Linked DNA regions of Homo sapiens: region 1 is linked to region 2. The links come from fine-mapping of genetic effects on gene expression. Tissue or cell type: whole blood. Region 2 holds a variant in brackets; the other region holds the start of a gene. All regions are shown on one strand. Distances are between the middles of the regions.

Evidence for each region. PIP is the estimated chance that this variant, and not a neighbour inherited with it, causes the effect.
Region 1: C1QA starts here. The variant in region 2 is fine-mapped to the expression of C1QA in whole blood (TOPMed, PIP 0.98).

The regions. Positions count from the first base shown.
Region 1 is chr1:22,632,915-22,640,914 of GRCh38, forward strand. It overlaps C1QA (complement C1q A chain), which reads left to right and starts at 3,714. Exons shown (of 3, transcript NM_015991.4): 1 at 3,714-3,788; 2 at 4,696-4,865; 3 at 5,919-6,764. The coding sequence starts at 4,703. The coding sequence ends at 6,493. MIR6127 (microRNA 6127) reads right to left here and starts at 452; the gene lies at 344-452.
Region 2 is chr1:22,533,324-22,541,583 of GRCh38, forward strand. No RefSeq gene overlaps it. Among named protein-coding and RNA genes, the nearest start is that of EPHA8, 26 kb to the right of the region's middle. The variant A/G (reference allele first, on the strand shown) is at 4,177.

The DNA.
Region 1 (8,000 bases), 99 kb after region 2:
CTCAAAAAAAAAAAAAAAAAAAGAAGAAGAAGAAGAAGAAGAAGATGGATACTGGGCTGGGCGCGGTGGCTCACGCCTGTAATCCCAGCACTTTGGGAGGCCGAGATGGACAGATCACCTGAGGTCAGGAGTTTGAGACCAGCCTGGGCAACATGGCAAAACCCCGTCTCTACTAAAAATACAAAAATTAGCTGGGCATGGTGGTGCATGCGTGCCTGTAATCCCAGCTACTTGGAAGGCTGAGGCAGGAGAATCTCTTGAACCCAGGAGGCAGAGGTTGCAGTGAGCTGAGATCCAGCCACTACACTCCCACCTGGGCAAAAAAATGAGACTCTGTCTCAAAAGAAGAAGAAGGAGGAGGAGGAGGAGGAGACTGGAAGGGATGTTAGAGGCCATTTGGGGCAGCCTTCCCACCTCCCACCCACTCCCTCATCTTGGTAGATGGAGAAAGTGGGGTTCAGAAAGATGAGATAACTTGCCCAGGGTCACACTGTGAGTTAGGTATGGGCTGAGCAGATGAGATTCCAGCTCCACGAACTTTCTGAATCCAGGGAGCATGGGAGGGGCTGTCAGGGGGAGCTCTGGGCCCCCACCCTTCAAGCCAGTATCCCCATTTTTATCTGTTTGACATACATCAGATGCCACACAAGATTGCAAATGAAAAAGAAGTCCCCAAAGCTCAAAAACCCTGGCTCTAGACCATCCTTCATCTGCCCACTTCAACAGCCTTCCCTTATCTCCTCCCTCCTCCTCCTCTTTTCCTCCTCCTGCCTCTGGCAAAATTTTCAGAAAACAAACAAACAAACAAAAACATGCTCATGAGAAGAAGCAGACAGATGTGGTCAGCCCAGGCCTGAACACATTGGTCTCCAGTCTGGGAGAGACAGAGCCTCTCTATCTAAAGAAAAGCATTCTCAGGGTCCAAGCTGACAATGATGCAGTGTGCCGTGCTGACAGGTAATGAGCATCCCATCAGTTAAGGTGAGTAAGGCTAGATGATCTGTTCAAACACTAGCAGCAATTGTCTCTAGATGGTAGAATTCACAGGCTTTTGTTGCTGGGTTTTGTTTTTTGTTTTTTTTTGAGATGGTGTTACAGGATCTTTGGGGTGTCATTTTCTGGCCGGAAACCTCTGTGGCTGGTGGCACCTTTGCCCAAGTTTTGCTCAGGCCCACTGGGCTTGTTTCACTCACTCCTCCTGGCAGGCAGCACTCAGCTCACATTACCAGCCTGGGTTCCACATCTGCCCAGGGCAAGTCAGGCATGGAACAGTGAAGGGTGTGTGAGTGAACATGGGGTCTGGCCACTGCACACAGTCAGACATGCCGGCTGCTGCAGCGGGGTGAGCAGCTCCAGGTGCCAGCATGGGCGCCAGCTCTCTGAGAGGTTGTGGCTAGACCAAGTACACCACAAGCAGCTTCCACAGCTGGCACCGGGGAACACGGTGGCACCCAGAAGCTTCGAGATGCCAGGAACCACAGGGCCCCGAAAAGGGAGTCACAGCTCCAGCTTGGGGAGCTCCCAGGTCTGGGTTCCCCAGAGGGCCGCAGCTCTTCTTTCCTTCCCTTCACCTGCATCATGGCAAGCAAGGGGCATGTTTCAGCCTTGTTTGTGTTACAGCTCTTTCAGCCCCACCATTTGATGGGTCCCAAGTTCTTATCCTGCAACCAGGAAGAATGAGGTATGCAGACAAGTGGGGAGTGAGCAAGACGAAGAGGAGCTTTACTGAGCGATAGAACAGCTCAGCCTCCTGCAGAGCCTCCCTCAGGGGGCAGCTCCTTTCCACAGCCAGGGTGTCCTGATGAGTGTTCAGCTGCTAGCAGAGAGGAGACCCTGGAATGGGAAGCTCCTCTCTGCAGGCAGGTCATCCTGTCGACTTTCCAGCTCTCAGAAGAGGGAAGACCCTGGAATGGGAAGCTCCTTTCTGCAGGCAAGTTGTTCTGCCATCTCTGCAGCTCTCAGCAGAGAGGAGGCCCTGGAGCGGGTAGCTCCTCTCGGCAGCTGGTCATCCAATGTCTGCCCAGCTCTGGCTGAGCCTGAAGCTTTCATGAGCCTCAGAGAGGAGGAAGTGCATACTGATTGGTCCATGGGTGGCTATAGGCAAGCCCAGAAAATACACCATAAGTTCCCACTCTGGTGTGTGGGACTGGCAGCCTGGCCCCCAGCCTTGAGGCCCTCCCTGGCTTGAAGGTAGGGCCTCACCAGGGACCCATCCCCTTCCACCCAGGAGCCTGTCTGTCTCCTGCTGCTGTTCATGGTGCCCAGGCTGTTCATGCCAAGGAGCGTCTGCAGGCCAGTGCCGAGCTGCCCTCAGTTTCCCCTTGGCTTTCCTTCCATGCTAGTCAGTGCCCAAAGTCCAGAGGGGGCCAAGGCAGCAGGGGTCTAGTGTGTCAGCACTGCCCCAAGCATGCCCACACCCAGCCAGGCTGCGACAGCACCCAGGCTCAGCACCAACTTTGCTCTAAGATCAGAGTGGGCGCCAAGAGGAGGGAGAAGCCAGGCAGTGGGAGCAGACACTTCTGAGCCTGAAGGGTGGGGCGGGGGGCCTTCCCGGGCCCCCAAGATTGCAGGGATGCCTGGGTCCACAGCTGCAGTTTAGGCAGCTGCAGCTGCATGGGGGATGGCGGGGGCCCCCACCTGCTCCATGAAGCAGGATCAGCTGTGGTTTGGCAGCTGCAGTGGTTCCCAGGAGGGCGGGGTTCCCACTGTCCCCAGCTCCCACTGGCTACATGGAGCATGCAGCCCTGGCCGTGCCTCCCTGCTGCAGCCAGTGTGATGACAGCAGCCATTCCAGACGGCCCGCCATTGCCATCTCTTTTTTTTTTTTTTTTTTTTGAGATGGGGTCTTGTTCTGTCTCCCAGGCAGGAGTGCAGTGGTAAGATCAAAGCTCACTGCAGCCTCAACCTCCTGGGCTCTAGCAATCCTCCCAGCTCAGCCTCCCAAATAGCTGGGACTACACAGGTGCATGCTACCACACCTGGCTATTTTTTAAATTTTTAGTAGAGATGGAGTTTCACCATGTTGGCCAGGCTGGTCTCGAACTCCTGACCTCAAGTGATCCGCCTGCCTTGACCTCCCAAAATGCTGGGATTACAGGCGTGAGCCAAAGCACCTAGACTTGCTGTTTTTTTAAATGTTGGCAAAAGCTAGTGACTAAGTGTTCACCATGTGCCAAGTGTTTTGTATGTGCAAGTCATTAAAATGTTATAATAATCAGATGATATAGGACCCCGTTCCCAGTGTACAGATAAAACTGAGGGCTCAGGAGGTCAAGTAATTTCCCAAAGACATGCAACTAGGAAGCAGCAAGTCTAGAAACAGATTGCTGTGCTTCCTTCTCACCAATGCACTGTTCTTTCTTCTTTGTATTTTCCAAGCTTTTGGCAATGAATTGCATGTCACTTTCATAATCATGAAAAGTCCTACAAGGGACAGATTTTTTTAAAGATTCCTTCCGCTCTGGTGTTCTGTGCTTCGCTGGTTCTCAGAACCTCACCCTGCACGGCCTCCACCCCACATCCTCACAGGCACTGGCCTCACTGCCCCCACTCCCACACCAGCTGTTGCTGGGGCAGGACGCCCAATGTCCCAGTCTTGCTGAAGTCTGCTTGAAATGTCCCTGGTGAGCTTCTGGCCACTGGGGAAGTTCAGGGGGCAGGTCTGAAGAAGGGGAAGTAGGAAGGGATGTGAAACTTGGCCACAGCCTGGAGCCACTCCTGCTGGGCAGCCCACAGGGTCCCTGGGCGGAGGGCAGGAGCATCCAGTTGGAGTTGACAACAGGAGGCAGGTGAGGCCAGAGTCCCAGAGGGAGGGGGCTGCAGAGTTCTGGGACCCAGGGGAGCTGGCCCAGGAGGCTGGGCAGCTGAGGCAGGGAGGGAGGGAAATAACTGTGCCTGATTCTAGGACAGGGATGGGGGTGCAGCACTGATCCAGGACCCAGAATGGGTGAGTGGAGGGACCTTAACTCCTTGAGCCAGGGCTTGGGGGAGGGTGAGAGGCGATGAGTTAGACCTAACAACTGAAGGGTAAGACCAGGGTTCCTGGGTCCTGGCCCCATAACACATAAGAAACCAGGAAAAGCCTGGGGTGCTAGAGCTGGCAGTGGGACCCAGCAGAGGGGACTGTAGGGGCAGCCAGTCACCCATGCTCAGGTGGATGCTGAAAGGCGCTGAGCATGCAGAAGAGTGAGCAGGTGTCGCTTTGGGCGTTTGTGAATTCCTGTGTGTATGCAGAGCTCCACCATCTGGGTGAGCCAGTGTTAATTAAATAAGGAGCAGGCGCTCAATACATATTTGTTCAATGAAATCGATTACCTGTGGGAGTGTATGAATGTGTGTGTCCGTGCAAGTGAGGGACAGGGTCTATTTGGGTATCAGTTGTGTGTCTAGGGGGGTATAGTGGATTTCTGAGTTTGCCTACTGTGTTTTGTAGGTGCGTGGATGAGAGCTGTGTTTGTGTGAGTGTGTGAAGATGTGGGTGTGCTCTGTTGCATGTGTGGATGTGTGTGAGTTTGTGGTTCTGTGTATATGCGTGGGGTCCTGGGGCTGGATTGAGAGTGGACATTGAGAGCCCCAGAGGGTGCATGTGCACTTGGGGAGGACTGTGCATATATCATTGTGTGCATGGGACTCAAGGGTGGGAGCTGGGTGTGAGTGTGATGTCCAACCTGCCCAGGCCCTCCCGTGTCTCCACAGAGGCATCATGGAGGGTCCCCGGGGATGGCTGGTGCTCTGTGTGCTGGCCATATCGCTGGCCTCTATGGTGACCGAGGACTTGTGCCGAGCACCAGACGGGAAGAAAGGGGAGGCAGGAAGACCTGGCAGACGGGGGCGGCCAGGCCTCAAGGGGGAGCAAGGGGAGCCGGGTAAGCACCCTTCCTCGGGACCCAGCCCCTTGGACCTTGGCCTGACTTGGCCTCCAGGGTGAAGGCTTGGGGTGGCACTGAGAATCAGGAGTCCGTCTGCCCCCAGTGCCCCATGAATCCTCTCCAGTTTGTACTTGGCCACAGGGGCTAAGGGAGGCCTAGCCTTCTCGGGCCATGTCCTCAGGCCTCTCCACTCCCTGTGTACTGCCTGGGCCCTCTTTCTTCGGCTTCACCTTCCCCCTCTGGAGAATGACTTGCTTTGACCAGTGAAAGTGAAAGTTCTGGCAGCAATGCTGAGTCCTTGTTCATGTTTCTCTTGCCAGAAAAACGAGGACTCAGAGTTTAGACTCAGGAGCCACTGCCTTGCTGTGTGACCTCAAGCAAGTTATTGGCCCTCTCTGAGCCTAAGTGGGCTCATCTGTAAAATGGAAAAATAACACTGCCTGGCACATAGAGAGGGATCAAATAACTGAATCTGTCCCTTCACTTCCTTCCAGCACCCCCAACACTGTCCCTGCTTCCCCCTCCCCAGCCCCTTCAGGCTTCAGAGACTCACATTCTAGAAGAAAGGCCAGGGGTAATGGAAAAGGGAAGAGGTCCTGACCAAAGTAGAAAGGGAGTCTCATGGAATCACCCTGGGCCTCCTAGTCCAAAGCAGACCAGAAGGATCACATAGACATTTGCAGTAATTTGCATCCGGGCATCCTACATGTGGTACCTGAACCTGAAGCCAAGTCAAGGTCAGTGCCCCAGAGGGGTATGAAGTCCTCAGCCTTGGGCAGGAACACAGCAGAGCAGCCAGAGTTCCATGCATTTCCCAGAACCTGACACTTTCCCAAGTGCCTGTTCACACTTCTCTCCACTTTACAGATGAAGTGGAGGCTCAGAGAGGTTGAGACACTTGCCCAAAGTCACACAGCCAATCAGAATCGATGTCCTGAAGGCCCAGGTGCTTCATTGCCCTTTATCCCATAGACTCAGGGGGTCCAGCTCTCTCCCTGAGGACCAGTAGGCATTGGACTCTCACTTCCAATCTGGCATTTCTCCCCACAGGGGCCCCTGGCATCCGGACAGGCATCCAAGGCCTTAAAGGAGACCAGGGGGAACCTGGGCCCTCTGGAAACCCCGGCAAGGTGGGCTACCCAGGGCCCAGCGGCCCCCTCGGAGCCCGTGGCATCCCGGGAATTAAAGGCACCAAGGGCAGCCCAGGAAACATCAAGGACCAGCCGAGGCCAGCCTTCTCCGCCATTCGGCGGAACCCCCCAATGGGGGGCAACGTGGTCATCTTCGACACGGTCATCACCAACCAGGAAGAACCGTACCAGAACCACTCCGGCCGATTCGTCTGCACTGTACCCGGCTACTACTACTTCACCTTCCAGGTGCTGTCCCAGTGGGAAATCTGCCTGTCCATCGTCTCCTCCTCAAGGGGCCAGGTCCGACGCTCCCTGGGCTTCTGTGACACCACCAACAAGGGGCTCTTCCAGGTGGTGTCAGGGGGCATGGTGCTTCAGCTGCAGCAGGGTGACCAGGTCTGGGTTGAAAAAGACCCCAAAAAGGGTCACATTTACCAGGGCTCTGAGGCCGACAGCGTCTTCAGCGGCTTCCTCATCTTCCCATCTGCCTGAGCCAGGGAAGGACCCCCTCCCCCACCCACCTCTCTGGCTTCCATGCTCCGCCTGTAAAATGGGGGCGCTATTGCTTCAGCTGCTGAAGGGAGGGGGCTGGCTCTGAGAGCCCCAGGACTGGCTGCCCCGTGACACATGCTCTAAGAAGCTCGTTTCTTAGACCTCTTCCTGGAATAAACATCTGTGTCTGTGTCTGCTGAACATGAGCTTCAGTTGCTACTCGGAGCATTGAGAGGGAGGCCTAAGAATAATAACAATCCAGTGCTTAAGAGTCAGGCCCGTCCTTAGTATGTTTTTTTGTTTTTTGTTTTTTAAGATGGAGTTTCTCTCTTGTCACCCAGGCTGGAGTGCAATGGAGTGATCTTCGGTCACTGCAACCTCCGCCTCCCGGGTTCAAGCAACTCTCCTGCCTCAGTCTCCCAGGTAGCTGGGATTACAGGTACCTGCCACCATGCCCCGTGAATTTTTTGTATTTTTAGTAGAGAAGGGGTTTCACCATGTTGGCCAGGCTGGTCTCGAACTCCTGACCTCAAGTGATCCTCCAGCCTTGGCCTCCCAAAGTGCTGGGATTAGAGGCATGTGCCACCACGCCCAGCCCATTCTTAGTATTTCACATGATGTGTTTAGCATGTCCTAGCAGCCTCATCTACCCAGGTTCGAATCCTGATGCCACCACTTATTAGCTGTCTAATCATGTGCATGTTAACCCAGCTCTGAGATCTCAGTTTCCTCATCTGTAAAGTGGGACTGATGATCCCAAAGGGTCATTGGGAAGATTAAATGACTTAATATATGAAAATTGTAGAGCAGTGCTCAGTTTATAACAAGGGCTATGGAAATTTTTGCTATTATTATATTTTATTTAATCTTTATGACCAAGCTCTGGGTATGGTATGATGGCCCTACATTACAGATGATGAAACTGAGGCTGCGAGGAGTAGGCATCAATCAGCAAATCAGCATCTAAGGGGAGGATCTGGGGGCCAGTCACAGTGGCTCACGCCTGTAATCCCAACACTTTGGGAGGCCAAGGCGGGCAGATCACTAGAGGTCAGGAGTTCGAGACCAGCCTGGCCAACATATAGTGAAACCCTGTCTCTACTAAAAATACAAAAATTAGCTAGGGGTGGTGGCGCACACCTGTAGTCCCAGCTACTTGGGAAGCTGAGGCAGGAGAATCACTTGAATCAGGGAGGCAGAGGTTACAGTGAGCTGAGATCGCGCCACTGCACTCCAGCCTGGGTGACAGAGCGAGACTCCATCTCTTAAAAAAAAAAAAAAAAAAAAAAAAATTGGAGGGTGGGGAGGCGGGAAGGAGCTGAGATTTGAACCCAAGTCTTACTGATGCCCAAGCCTGTGTTTAACCACTACCCTCACCAGCCTCCCTGGCTTCTATGAAGCACATGACACATCACACAGGTGCTTTTTCAACCCTGTGTTGGGAAGGCAGGGGCAGGAATCAGAGAGGGGAAGCAATTGGCCCAAGGGCACTCCGCAGTCCTTCCTG
Region 2 (8,260 bases):
TCCTCCTCTCTTTGTCCTCTGAGGAGAGATTAGCAGAAGGCTAAGAGCAGCCAGCCAGGCCCCACCACTCCCAGCTGCTCTGATCAAACACCATTCCTGCCGCTTCTTCTAGCTCTGGCTCCCCCGGCGCAGGCCAGAAACAGCTGATCAAACACATCAGGACAAGGTCAGTCCAGGGACCCACGGTCCCCTCCAGGGGAGATTTCACAGCCCTGCCATCAGGAGGGTCTGATAAAAATGGGCAGGGGGCGGGGAAGGGGGCCTGTGGGGCTGGCACAGGACCAAACAGCTTTTCATTTTGTTTAAGGTTGAAACCCCTGTGCTCCACACAGGGTCCACACCAAGCCAGCATTTCCAGAAAGGCAGAGCTGGAGCTGAGGAGACGGGAGCTGTGTGTGCACGTATGAGTATGTGGGGGTGAGAGAGATGTCAAGAGCACATGTGGGTTTGGGAGCATGGGATTATTAGATTGTCACAGGATGACTTAAGATCCTCCCCCGCTAAACTGCGACCCCTTCAAGGGCAAGGACTGTGCATTATCCTCGTTCTCTCTCTTACATGCACATGTGTGTACCCAGCAGTTAGCCTGGCACATCAGGTGCCTGATTGCACAGGTATGTTAGACCTGAAGTTCTGGGACTCGGTGAGGTCCTGTTACCGGGCTAAAATGGTGCCTGGCTCCCGCTCCTACAGGACTCATCAGCCAGGTAAGGATTATATATGAATGAGAAACAGATACCAAAACACCCATGTCTGTCCAGACTCAAGATCTAAAGATCCCAGCGCCTACAAATTCTGTGGGGGTTTTGGTTAGTTGGTTGATTGGTTGGTCTTTTTCATGGGTAGGGGAAGGAAGGGGAGGATTAATATTTTTTAGAAATAGGCCAGGCGCGATGGCTCATGCCTATAATCCCAGCACTTTGGGAAGCCGAGGCAGGTGGATCATCTGAGGTCAGGAGTTCGAGACCAGCCTGGACAACATGGTGAAACCCCATCTCTACTAAAAATATAAAATTAACCGGACGTGGTGTGCATGCCTGTAGTCTTAGCTACTTGGGAGGCTGAGTCAGGAGAATCACTTGAACCCAGGAGGCGGAGGCTACAGTGGGCTGAGATCACGCCACTGCGCTCCAGCCTGGAGAAGACAGAGCGAGACTCCATCTCAAAAAAAAAAAAAAAAAGAAATATCCTAATTAATAATTGGTGTTATTACATGCTTACCACACATTAGACACTGGATGAAGAGCTTTTTGTAATTTTTTGTTTTTTTGAGACAGAGTCTCACTCTGTTGCCCAGGTTGGATGGAGTGCAGTGGCACGATCTCAGCTCACTGCAACCTCCACCTCCCAGATTCAAACCATTCTCCTGCCTAAGCCTCCCAGGTCGCTGGGATTACAGGTGTGCACCACCACACCTGGCTAGTTTTTGTATTTTTAGTAGAAACAGTGTTTCACCTTGGTGGCCAGGCTGGTCTTGAATTCCTGACTTCAGGTGATCCACTTGCCTCGGCCTCCCGAAGTGCTGGGATTACAGGCATGAGCCACAGTGCCCAGCCCAGTAATTCTTATTTCTTAGAATTCTAGCACCAACTCCACAATGTAGGTGCTATTATTATCCCTGCATTACAGATGAGGAAACCAACACCAGAGAGGTGAAGTCGCTATGTAGCTAGAGAGCAGCATAGCTGGGGTCCAAACCCAGCTGTCTGACTCCAGAGTCTGCTCTTAAATCGCTTGCTATTTTTAAGCATTTCTTGTTTAATACCTAATCAGCCAGAAAATGTGGCTTATCCCCACTTCCTATGCCTTAAGCAGCCTTGCTGTCACACCTGGACTGTTGTCATAGAGCCAAGGACTCTCCACCTGCTTTCTCTCCTTTCCCGTCCCCTCTGTCCATCCTGCCTGAGACAGCCAGGCAGGCCTAAAACTGCTTTTATCAGCCAGAAATGTGTCCAGGAGCAAAGGGTCATGTCCTTTGCCTTGCGTGGGATCAGTGGCCTGGGTCCTGTCACTTTTTTGGACCCCATGCTCTTCAGTCTCACCGGTCCTCAGTTGACACTTGACAGCTCACTTGGGGCTCTTCCTTGAGATGCAGGACAGCCAGAGATCCTGGCACTGAGGAGACATGTCTCGTATAAGCAGGTAAGCAGCAGAATCGGGAGTAGGTCTGGGCTCTTCGGAGACCTGAGACCTGCGCTCCTCCCACTGCTGCAGTGGCACTGTGGAGCCTGCCTGGAACAAGCCCCTCCAGCCCAGGGGGCACACAGTCAATGCAGGGGGCGCATAGTCAATGCAGGGGGCTTCCTGGACCTCATGCTTCCCAACGGCTTGGGCCATGTGGCCCCAGTGGAGTTGGTTTCTTGGTCTGGCATCAGCAGAATGGGTTGTCTTTTGTTTTTTAACTTTAAGTTCAGGGATCCAAGTGTAGGTTTGTTACATAGGTAAACTCATGTCACAGAAATGGGTTGTACAGATTATTTCATCACCCAGGCATTAAGCCCTAGTACCTATGAGTTATTTTTCCTGATCCTCTCCCTCCTCCCACCCTGCACCCTCCAAAAGGCCCCAGTGTGTGTTGTACCCTCTATGTGTCCATGTGCTCTCATCATTTAGCTCCCACTAACAAGTGAGAACATGTGGTATTTATTTGGTTTTCTGTTCCTGTGTTAGTTTGCTAAGGATGATGGTCTCCAGCTCCATCCATGTCCCTGCAAACGACATGATCTCATTCTTTTTTATGGCTGAGGAGTGGGTCGTCTTACCCATATGGTGTCCCCATTTCTGTCCCAACCAGCGGTCAGTTGACTTGGAGCAGCAGAGGCCTCACCTGGTAGGAGTAGGGCTGTGGGGCAGGTGGAGCACGGAAAGAGAGGAGGCGGCAGATGCGTGACCCCCCTGGCCTGCCCTCCCTTTTGCATGGATAATGGTAGTCCCATAATGCCTTATTCTGGAATCACACTCTGCTATTTTTAGATACTTTCATATACATTATTTCTTTTGATCCTTACAGTCACATGAAAGTTTAGGTATCTTTATTGTTACCTCTTTTTACAGTAAAGGGATTCAGACAGTACAAGACCTCAGCCTTAGACGCAAGGCTCCTCCGCTAGTGAGAGGTGGAATTGGAGTCCAGGTTTTTGACACAGAACGCAGGATTTTCTCCACCTCGCTGTGTTGCCTGTTACACCTCCCTGTGTTTCACAGCACTTTCAGTCATTTACATGCTTGGTTCTGGCAGCAGTGCTCTGAGGCTGGAGGGGCGCAGATGATTATTTTGCAGATGAAGAAATCGAGGTTTCAGGACAGTTGGTTGTTCCATCACATGGTGAGTCAGTAGCAGAACTGCAGTGAGAACAGCTGGACCCAGCATTACATCCACTTGGCAAGGAGAAGTGCCTCTTAGGCCAGGCAAGTGAGGAGACTCAAGTCCAAGTCCTAGCAGCAGGGATGGGTGAGAGCCGCCATTTGTTGACTTCTGCTCTGGGCCAGAGCGTGTGTACCTCATCCCCAACGCAGGTGCCACACCCACAGTCACTGGCCGGTAGGACTCTCTGTGATGGCGACAGTGGTCCATTCTGCACTGTCCAGTGTGGGAGCCACTAGTCATGTGTGACTGTGGGGCACTTGAAATGTGTCTAGTGCACCTGAGGAACCATAGTTTTAATTTAAATAGTCCCATGTAGCTTCGTGGCTGCTGTTATTGGACAGCGTAGAACTGGATGAAGGCTCAGGGGGTTGAGGGTCACACAGGAAGTGGCTGAGTCCAGATTCAAGTCCAGATCTGTGAGATTGCAAAGCCTGTGGCATTTCCGTTGGCGCCCAGTGTCGGGAGGGAGATGCGCACGAGTGGTGGACATTGGCTGTGAGGTTCAGAAGGCTTCATTTCATTTGTGAAGGCTGCCCCTCACTCCCTGGCTGTGCGCTCGGACAGCCACATCACCGCTGTACCCTCCTGCATCTTCATCCTCGTCAGCGTTGATGCTGTTATATTGACCACCCGTCACCCCCAGGCTGGGCGCCGGGGCTCTACCTCCATCAGGACTGAGCCTGATACTGAATCTACAATAACACTACTGTGACCCCATTTCCCGGAGTCAATAGAGGCTCAAAAAGATTGAGAAACTTGCCCAAGGTCACCAGCTTTTACTGGAAGGGTCACATTGGCATAAATACAAA[A/G]TACCCTATTTTTGTTCCTTTTTCTCACCAGCTCCAGACCAGAGCTAAAGCGAAATTAGAAAGTGCCACAGAGGCAGCCAGGAAGCCCTCCCACTTCCCATCACACACTTCGCTGGCCCCTATCTTTGAGAAGACAGCATTGTACTGAGCATGCTGTCTGGGCACAGCCACTGCTCCCAGAGAGTGGGCAGAGGGCCAGGCACGCCACTCCTGGGGGGCAGCCTCGCCTGTGTGTTTGCAGCTTTCTCACAACTATTCTAGAAAGCACTTGCCTCAAGTAAATGCTTTTTTTAAAAGCATATGTAATCTTAAATACGATTTTTGTTTCATCATGGAACAAGATGTGTTAGTTCCAGCACACTTACAATGCAAGTCATGAGAAGACGCAATTCATTGTCACTCATGAGCTGTGTGACCTTGGTCGAGTCTTTTCAGCCCCACCCCCGCAAGTGGATTAGATAACCTCCACGAGCCCTCCTCCAACGTTTCTGATTCCTTGGGTAGCATGGGAAGTAGAGAAACCAGGGTTCTGGCTCGGACTGCCACTTTCACGGTGTGTGACTTACCTCTGAGCCTTGGGCTTCTCATCTGTAAGGATGCCATTCCTGTGGAGTGGGAGCGCCCAGCAAGATCTGGCACAAGAAGAGCCTGGCATGGGGCTGCCATGGGGCGCGTGCTCAGTGAAGGTCCTGATAACGCTTTTGTGCTGCATGCACAAGACCCAGCGATACCCCATGGCCCCATCTCAAGGAACAAGGAAGAGATGTTGGAAGAAGTCTCTGTCCTCAACTGGGAGGAGAAACATGCCCTCTTCGGGCCAAGATGGTGGCACCAGTGCTGAGAACAGCACCAAAGAGCCTCCTGTGGCAGCTTTCACTGCAGGGCAGCCTTGCCCCCTCACCTTAGTGGGTGTGGGCCTTGGGGGCTGTGCCCACCAGTGGCACAGCTGGGAGGATCTGGAAGGGACAGGTAACAGAAGCATTTAGTCCTGGAAGAGGGAGGTTTCCCAGAGCTGAGGGGAGGGCATGGCTCAAGAGAGGAGCAGGGCACGAGGACAGTGGCTCAGCCATCCCTGCCAGCCCTGGTCTGAAGCAAGCCTAGAGTCCAGGATAGCCCCCAGGCTGACAGTCAGGGATATGGAGTCAGATGGTCAAATGTCAACACTGTTGCTGCCCGGCACTGTGACTGAGCACGCCATTTAAGCTCTCTGAGCCTTATTTGCATCTTCTGTGAAATGGGGAGGGTAGGGGGTAGAATGTAATACCCAGGAAGGCCCCTGTGTGATGCCAGCCAGAGTGGGCTCAGTAGTGGTTATTAGTTTCCTGGGGCCTGACCCAGCTGTTGCAGGAGAAGTCTGTGCTGGGTGCTCTGGCCTCTGGTGTCCGTGAGGCAACAGAGAGGAGTGAGTCTGCTGCGATCCCCACTGCTGACCTCGGGAAGGCTGTGACCTCGGCGCCAACTGGGAGAACCAGGGCCTGAGGTCTGGGGATGCTGGAGTCCAAGTCTCTCGGGTTACGCCTGGCTGGCCGAGTGAACAAGACCAGAACCCCAGGTTTGGGGAGGGCTTCCTCATCTGACCACTCAGGAGCCCTGAGGATAGGATCCCCTGGACACCATGGGTCACTCCCATCTTCTGGTCAGAACCTTTCTCACAGGCCTTCCTGGGGACCTGGACCTAGACTGCCAGGGGGGCAGGGGGCACAGAGCCTCGAGGTTCCCAACATGGAACTGTGAGTACCCCCAGCCAAGCACACACACTCAGGGCCATCCTCCTCCCCATCCACCAACCCACACCCTCTGCCAGCCTTTCCCACCCAGCTTCCCCCCAGTCCTGCAAGCGCAGCCCAAATGTCTCCCACTGCAGAAAGTGGCCTCTGTGACCTCAGCCAGGGAACTCCTTCCCTGGACTCCTCCCATACTTTGTACAACCCATAGTATTGAGCATGTGGTCATGTGTGTTCATGTCTTTTTATTACTTTTTTCTGATAGAATATATGTAACAAAGTCTACCTTTTTAACCATTTTTAAGTGTCATGTTTAGTAGCATTAAGTACATTCTTACTGGTGCAACCACCATTACCACCTGTCTCCAGAACTTTTTCATCATTTCATACTGAAGCTCTGTATCCATCAAACATTCTCTTTGCCCCAGAAAGAAGCCTCGTATCTGTTGTCAGTCACTTCCTGTTCTCCTCTCCCTGAACCACCCCGACCCCCCACCCCACCACAGCAACCACCATTCTACCCGGTCTCTAGGAAATTAAGCGGTCTAGGTGTATCATAGAAGTAGAATCATACAGTATTTGTCTGTGTTCGTGTCTTTTTTTTTTTTTTTTTTTGAGACACGGTCTCTGTCGCCCAAGCTGGAGTGCAGCGGCGCCATCGTGGCTCGCTGCAGCCCCAATCTCCCAGGCTCAAGTGATCCTTATACCTCAGCTTCCTGTGCAGCTGGGACCACAGGTGGGGCCACCACTCTCGGCTAATTTTTTTTTAATTATTATTTTTAGTAGAGACGGGGTCGCACTATGTTGCCCAGACTGGTCTCGAACTACTGAGCTCAAGTGATCCTCCTGCTTTGGCCTTCCAAAGTGCTGGGATTACAGATGTGAGCCACCGCACCCAGCATATGTTCACGTCTTAATCCTCCACAGGGCCTTGTGACTAGTGACTGAGCAAAAAGAGCAAATGAAGAGGCAAAGAATGCTACCACCATGCCTGAGACTTCCTGAGACAGGCACAGTCCCCTGCCTCACCCAGCTCCAAAACTCCTAGAATTCATTCATTCCCTTATGATGGGCAGACAGCATTGTAGATGTGGAGACCCCACAGTGAACAGAACAGACTGCAGTCCCTGCCTTTATGGAGCTCACAGTTGAGTCAAGACAGTGACTACATATATAGTCTGCTAGATAATGGTGAGCCCCAGGGAGAAAAATTAAACTGGGGGGCAGGGGGCAGACAGGAAGTACCAGGCAATGTTGCAATTCCAGGGTGGCCAGGAAAGGCCTCGCTGATTCAATGACTTGAGCAAAGACCCGCTGGCTTTGAGGGAGTGGCCGTGTGAATGTCTAGGGAAGGATGTTCCTGGCAGAGGGACAGCCAGTGCAAAGGCCTGGAGGCAGGAACATGCACGGCCTGCTTGAGGATGCCTGGGAGGCCAGGGTGGCTGGAGCAGAGTGGGCATGGGAGAGGGTAGTAAGAGAGAAAGCGAGAAAGTGGTCAGGGCCCAGAGTATGCAGGGCCTTCTAGGTCATTTTAAGGCTGTGGCCAGTGAAGGGTTTTGAGCAGAGGTGCTGCAGCTGCTGTGCAGAGAATAAATATAAGGTGGGGAGTTGGGGGGTGGTGCTGGGAGGTTACTTAAGGGGCCATTGCAATATCTCATCGCAGCAGAATTTCATAAAAATGAAAATGAAGCCACAGCCAGAAAATATTTCTGAGTGGCTCCTTTGTTAGCCAAGCAAGGAAAATGATGATGTGGACACGGGTGACGGTGAGGAGTGATCAAGTGGCGCCCACCGGGTCCCCGGATGGACTAGATGTGGGATTTAAGGAAAAAGAGGTTCAAGGATGATTCCCAAGATTTTTGGTCTGAAAGTGGAAGCATGAAGTTGCCAGGTGCTATGCTGGGGACAACCTCAAGAAGGCAGGGAAGACAGGCAGAGCACACGGGGGATGCGGGCTGAGCTCGAGAGCCTACTGCACGTCCAGGTAGAGAGATGCGAGTCTGGACTCATGTGGTAAGGTCACCCTATCCACTGTTCCTCTTTCGTTTTCTGGGTCCAGGCTGGCACCTGGCATCACCAGAGCTGCAGCTCAGACTCACTCTTTCCTCGGCGTGGGGCAGAGACCAGGTGTCACAATGTGCCTCTTCTTGGTCAATCTGTCCATCCATTCATCCAATACGCCCTGCTCATCCCACCTATGTCAGGCACAGTACCAAATACAGGAAGGAGTAAGACGTGGCCTCTCCCCTCCACAGGCCCACAGTCTGGTTACAAATTCTCTACCCTCCTCCTCCAGCTTCTGCCCCTCATTCCTCCCTTGGCCTCAGTCCTTCTCCATCGGTAAAGCGTCTTTGGATCAG